2 linked regions of the Homo sapiens genome follow. The protein of the gene in region 1 purifies or fractionates together with the protein of each later gene. This does not show direct contact. Each region holds a gene or a part of one and is shown in the gene's direction. Other genes may lie near its edges.

Region 1 (3,500 bases):
CTTTTTCCCTTTCGAGGTTCCTATTTTTTATTGTGTATACTTACATACACAATAAAGGCAATATCTCTCTTCAACAAGCAATTTTCATGCATCAGATCTTTTTTTTTCTTAAAGTATTTCTTCAAGCCTTCAATTCTATTTCTAGTGATCCGATAGTCAGTTTAAGCTGTTCTTTTACTTCAACTTCTTTCCTATGTTGCTCCACTTTCCTTTCTAACTCTTCCCTAATTTTTTCATATAACATATTAGCATTTCTTCTCATCTTCTTCTAAGCTGCAAACTGTAGAGTTCCTGTTTCCATTCTACTTTTTGATATTGAACTGTGACTTCGTTTCTTGTGTTTTGGATAGCTCCTTCAGTACACTAAACTCAGTTTTCATATTTCTTATTGTCTAGTGTAAGTTGTTCACAGATAATTTTTTTTAAGGTCCAGTGACTTTTCACATGAAAGAAATGCATTCTGGACTTCCATTAGGATACGAGAATCATTACAATCCATTCCATATTGCTTAATGAGCATCATAAACTTCTTACAATGAGGGTAAGGTTTCTCATGATCCTCTGAAGCTGTTTCAGAGGGCCGAGTTAAGTCATCAGGTTCATCTCTAAATGAGTTTGCTTTTTGACCTTTTTCTTTTCATTTGACATTTTCTTTGCAGGCCTAGCATACTCTTTGTTCTCCTTCCTAGGAAATCGCTGATGGTAAGTTTTTCCACTCTTTCTTTGTTGAATTAATTTATCATCATCGTCAGCAGATGTACTATCATATACGTTTTTTTGATACTTTTTTTTTTTAACTTTCGTGCTTCTTTCTAGCTTCTTCAACCTGTGGCTGTTTATTTTCACTTTCAAGCTTTTCCTGTTCTTCCTCTGATGTCACTTGTACTTCTTGTTCTGCTTTGGATGTTTGTTCGTTCTTCCTTTCTATTGCTTTCTTCACAACAGAATCTTTCATTTCCATGGTAGGCTTTAGGGAAGGATGTTTTTCAGGAGGCCCTTCTCCCTTTCCATTTACTATATATTTTTTCCTTTTTTATATGAAGGTCCAAGTAAAGACTTTGAAACACTCTCAGGGATACACTGCTTGGTAGTAAAAGTCAAGTCTTCATCATCTGGTTTAGGCCATGAGTCAACACACAGTTTTTTTTTAAATACTGAATGCAGATGCTTCAGAACTCCCAGAATCTTTTGCACTTGCTCCTCCTGTTTTCAAACTTGCATTCTTCTTGGATGCTTCTTCTGGGTTGTCATTTTGAAGACCATTTTCAAGTATCTTTTTTTTTTAATGTTGCAAAATTTGTTGTGAGTGCTTGTCAGACCACCAGAAATAGCATAATCTGCAGTCTGTTCATACATACTCTTGAGTAAAGACAATATTTTGTTGAAGAAGAATGCTAACTATACCTGACAAGCCATAATGTACAACAGGCATGAGAGCTGTTCTTTTCAACCTATCAACAGCATGTACATTTGCTTGTTTCTTCACTAAAATTCCACCTTTTGCTGTGTTTTGCAAACTATAGCAAGTAAAAGTGGTGTGTTTGCATCCTTGTTCAGCACTTCAGTATCCTTGTTCAGCACTTCAGTATTCACATGGTGTGAGGGCAGTTTTTCTGCCAGTAGTGTATTCTCATTATACACAGCATAGTGTAGTGCATTGTTGCTATAGACATCCATAAGATCTGGGTTGGTGCCACATTCTAGCAGAATGATGACACAAATCTCTTCTTGGCAATGTACAGCCTTCATCAAAGGCATCCTGTTTCATTTGTCACCAATGTCAGTCTGGCACTTTCAGTTCACCTGGAGAGTGACCACTTCCACATGGCCATTGGCACAGGCCAAATGTAAAGCAGTCGTGTTCATCCACAGATGAAGGAATACAGAAACTCCAGGATATTTGCACAATGGAATACTCTTCAGCCATCAAACTTTAGGACATCACCCCACTTCCAGCAACGTGGAGAGAGACCTGTTCATCCACAGATGAAGGGATACAGAAACTGTAGTATTCATTCACAATGGAATACCCTTCAGCTGTGCACATATACTGAAATCATATCACCTGGAGCCACACAGTTGAACCTGTTCATCCCTTGATGAAGGGATGACAAAACTGAAATATATATCCAGAATGGAATACCCTTCCACGACAGAAGTGGATGAAATCCTGTCATTTGCAGCCATGTGGAGAAACCTGTTCATCCGCAGATGAAGGGATAAAGAAACTGTAGTATATATACACAAATGGAATACTCTTCATCCAGAAAAATGTAATGAAATTACATCATTTGCAGCCACACTGTTGAACCTAGAGGACATCATGGTAAATGACCTGTCCTGTCCACCCACAGCTGAAGGGATAAAGAAACCACCATACAGATACACTATGGAATATGCTTCAGCCATAAAGCTTTGGGAAATCCTGTCATCCACAGCCATGTGGAGAAACCCAAGAAACCCAGAGGATATTAGGTCCAAGGAAATGAGCCTGGTAGAGGAAGTCCCACACCTTTTAATCTCAGGCATGGAGATTCCAAAAACTTTATCTCCTGTCCATCTACAGATGAAGGGATCAAGAAACTGTAATGTATATGCACAAAGAATACTCTTTGGCCATCAAAATAACTAAACCATGTCATTTGGAGCAACAAAGCCACTGCGGCCTCCATTTGGGCCAAGCTCTGACTGCAATGATGCCTCTGCCCCGACCCGGGCCTCGCTGTGACTGACAATGCCGCTGCATCTTTTCAGCAGTCATTGATGAGGAAGTATCTACATCCTCCTTCCCACTACCAGATTTTGCTTGGAGAAAAGCAGTTTCCTGAAATAATTCTGTGACGAGCTTCTTCCACATTAGGACAAAAATGCTGGTAACTTTTAAAAATTCCTACAGAAACCTCCTGCTTCCCTCTCCAGCCATATCCCAGGCAAGCCCCCAGCACACCACCCTGCCCCAGAACCCATTTCCCATACCCATCCACCACTCCTGACCTCCAGGCCTTGGCTCAGGCTGGCCTTCTGCTCAAAGGCTCTCCTTTGGAGTCGCCTGGCTAAGCACAGCTGTGCCTCACCCCCGCAAAATCTAGTAGTCATCTTGAATTTCTTCCTTTCCCTCACTATCATTCATTCATTCAACAAAAATCTTGTCATGTGCCCGCTGTGTTCCAGCTTTTGTTCTAAATCCTGGGAGACAGTGTAATTAAGACACACAAGTCCTACTCTTGTACAACTTGCATTTGAGCTTGGGGCAGCAGGGAAAGGAGGACAATAAACAAAACCAGATAAATGCTATGAAAGAAAAAAGATAAAACCAGTAGACTGTGATAGTGAATTAGGGGTGAGGGGAGCAGAGTACTATTTTAAATCAGCTGAGCAGGGAGAACTCACTAAGGAGGAGACATTTAACAAGAAGGAACCACCCTGGCAAAAACGGGGACTAAGCCAAGGGCACATACGGTGACATTTTTGCCGTTTGTAGTAGGAGGGGTCAACCAAGT
Region 2 (3,500 bases), on another chromosome or scaffold:
GTAGCTCATGCCTGTAATCCCAGCACTTTGGGAGGCCTAGGCAGGGTGATCGCTTGAGCCTAGGAGTTCAAGATGAGTCTGAGCAACAAGTGAAACCCTGTCTCTACAAAAAAATACAAAAATTAGCTGGGGGTGATGGTGTGTGCCTGTAGTCCCAGCTACTTGGGAGGCGAAGGTGGGAGGATCGATTGAGCCTAGGAGCTTGAGGCTGCAGTGAGCTCTGATAGCATCACTGTACTCTAGGCTGGATGACAGAACAAGACCCTGCCTCAAACAAAACAAAATAAAACTAACCAACCAACCAAAAAAATACCTCTTTTCTTTAATATGTGTGTGTATAGTCTTTAATAGTCTAGTCTGTTTTGGATAACAATGCCATAATTATAGATAGATAGATAGATAGATAGATAGATAGATAGATATATGTATATACACACATACACATATATTTACATATACTAATATATAAATGTGTTATATGTTAAAAATATATAAATTATATGTTAAATATGTAAAATAGGACATTCTTTTTAGAGTAGTTTTGTCTACAATAAAAAGTTATGGAGTAGATAGGGGAAGCCTGTTACTCCTCCTCCAACCCCACCTTATTGATGTATCAATGAACTCTACATGTGTCATATGGAAGCTTATTCCAGACATTGTATCAGCATCGTCACACTGCTGCTTGGTTTGATGATAGCCATTTTTGAATGGACCCAGGACCTTTGGAGCTGTGTGGTCTGTGGCAAATTTTTTGTCAACAAGTCCTTGACCATCTTAAAGTTTAAATTGTTTAACAACACCTAGAAGATTTACATTGCCTTAGACATTGCTTGAATTACACTAGACATCAATAATGCTCTTTCAATAGCTATGCATGTCAGTATTCTCCTCTTCATTATTTTTCCGCATTTATTCCTGATTGCATAAGCACATAGGCACAAAGCACTTTTCACAAGTTGTATGATTTGACTTTTGTTCTTCAGAATTGATTTGGTTGTTGAATGACTTATACTCCAAGTGTTCTTAGAACATAAATTACTTCCTTACCATTTCCATTTTTTGGTTATTTTTTGTAAATCATTATTTTTTGTTTCCACTGTTATTATAGGCCTCTATTACAGGTTGAGTGTGCCTTATTTGAAATGCTTAGGACCAGAAGTGTTTTGGGTTTGGGATTTTTTTTAGATTTTGTAATATTTGCAGAATACATACCAGTTGAGCATCTCTAAGCCAAAAATCTAAAATCTTATATGCTCCAATTACCTTTTCCTTTGAACATCACATTGGTGCTCAATAAGTTTTGGATTTTGGAGCATTCAGGATTTTTAGATTAGGGATGCTCAACCTGTAGTACTTTAACTATTTTGATACTGTCCTTGTTTTTGGCACTTATTAAGATGATGGGGTTGAAAATATATGTGAAACACCTGAAAACCGAACAAGAGCACTGGCATTCCTTAGACTAAAGAGGATGGGACTAGTCTATGAAAGTTTTTGGTTGAAAGTGTGTAAATATATGTGTCTGTGCATTGCTTGTAGTTTTACCATAGTTATCACATCCCACTTTGTATTTGTTATTGTGAACTTATTTTGCATTGCACAACTTATATCTAGTACATCATATCTTCTTTGTATATCTTTTAATCATCACAGTACTGATGTGAATAATTTGCAAATAATATATTTTTAGGAGCATATCGAGTGAATATTGAACCATTTTAGATGGTTATGTTAGAAAAATTTAGATGTAGTTGTGTTTAATTTCATTATATCTTCAAAATGACTGGAAAATAATATATAACTTATAAAAACAAATATGAAGGCCTTTAAATAATTTGCAGAGAATAATTTCAAATGCTTGGCTCAGTCAAAACTTTGTTCTCTCTTCATAAAATCGCTAATATAATGTTTAAATATTTCCTGTAGTTAATCATTGTTGGTTATTAGAACTTAAACAGATTTTGTCTTTCAGCTCCTGAATTCAGACCACAGATCCACAGCCACAGTCCAGATATGTAGCGGTTCTGTAAACCTTAAGGGTGCTGTGAAATGCAGAGCTTATATCCACAGCAGTAAACCCAAAGTTAAAGATGCTGTGCAGGTACAAAAAGGAATAACGAGCATATGGAACCATGTTAACTATTAACAAAAACCTAAAATTTTACCATTTTTTAATCTTATATTTTGTAATTATTAATTCGATTTTAACTGATAATGGCCTATTGTGCAGTCCAAATGTACCATATAATTGGTGTGAAGATTTTCATATGTAGAGTATCTATTTTGTGCCTTTTTAAAAATGATGGCTATACAAGTTTAGTAAGTGTTCCACTGTTATACATATTAGTATCTAATTTGGAACACTGCAATTATTTTTTTAGATGTGAAATTTTATTCATTTATCTGTTTTTAACTATTTAGATAAATTTATCATTAAACTATAAATTTGTTAATAAGTGTGCTAAATAAGTGGAAATAAAACATTGAATGATGTATCAGTTATTTAGTGGGCATGATTGTACTGGAAAGCAAATTATTTTTTTTGTTAGTTAAATATTGTAAATCTAAAGTATTTTATTTCTTACTGTGTTTTTTGTGTGTTTTTCCCTGTAGGCAGTAAAGAGGGATATATTGAACACAGTTGCTGATCGTTGTGAAATGCTATTTGAGGATCTGCTTTTGAATGAAATTCCAGAAAAAAAAGTTATGAGTATAAAATAAGTACTTTTTTGCGTATCTTCAACTGATATAGTAATAAGATATCAAGATATAGCAGATACGTCATCTTTTATAGCTACCTATCTATATTTTCAAGCAGTATATCATCTTTTATTATTGGATGAAAATTTTTCAGTTGCTACTCAGATTTTTTTTTTTTTTTTTAGACAGAGTCTCACTGTGTTGCCCAGGCTGGGGTGCAGTGGCACAGTCATGGCTCACCTGCAGCCTCAGCCTCTTGGGCTCAAGCAGTCCTCCTACCTCAGCCTCCCTAGTAGGTGGGCCTGCAGGCACATGCCATGATGCCTTGCTAATTTTTGGTATTGTTTTTTTAGAGACAGGGTTTTGCCATGTTGCCCAGGCTAGTTTCAAACTCCTGAACTCAAGTGATCCACTGTCTTTGGCTTCCCGAAGTGCTGGGATTACAGGTGTGAGCCACCATGCTTGGCTCTAGAAAAACGTTTTAGAACACTATCAAATTTAGCAAATTTGTCAACAATTAAGAATTTCAGGGAGGATTTTTAAAAAAATTAATTCCAAGTGAACTTCTCCTGCCAGAATGAGTAAACTTTGTTAACATTTTAAAGTTAGTATTTTTTGTTGATATCTATGAGTATTTTAAATAATTTAGCCATAATCAAAATATTATTAGTGTTAAATACTATATAATAGCTCCTTTAGTAGGTACTATTTATATAAACTACACTAGTTTATATGCTTCTCAGCTATTACTCTAACAGACTTCATTACGTTTAAAAAAGGCTGAGTTACAGTATCTT

Evidence for each region. Proteins that work in one complex are often made in the same cells at the same time.
Region 2: the proteins of SAYSD1 (region 1) and ODR4 purify together in Homo sapiens (affinity purification with mass spectrometry; one large-scale study listed by BioGRID and IntAct). This does not show direct contact.

The regions. Positions count from the first base shown.
Region 1 is NC_000006.12:39,108,687-39,112,186, reverse strand, and holds part of SAYSD1 (SAYSvFN domain-containing protein 1), read left to right. Parts: exon of another isoform or gene 1-2,867; coding exon of another isoform or gene 2,868-2,873; intron 2,874-3,500. UniProt on the Homo sapiens protein: Ufmylation 'reader' component of a translocation-associated quality control pathway, a mechanism that takes place when a ribosome has stalled during translation, and which is required to degrade clogged substrates.
Region 2 is NC_000001.11:186,396,338-186,399,837, forward strand, and holds part of ODR4 (protein odr-4 homolog), read left to right. Parts: intron 1-1,961; coding exon of another isoform or gene 1,962-1,975; coding exon 1,976-2,104; intron 2,105-2,616; coding exon 2,617-2,707; intron 2,708-3,500. UniProt on the Homo sapiens protein: May play a role in the trafficking of a subset of G-protein coupled receptors.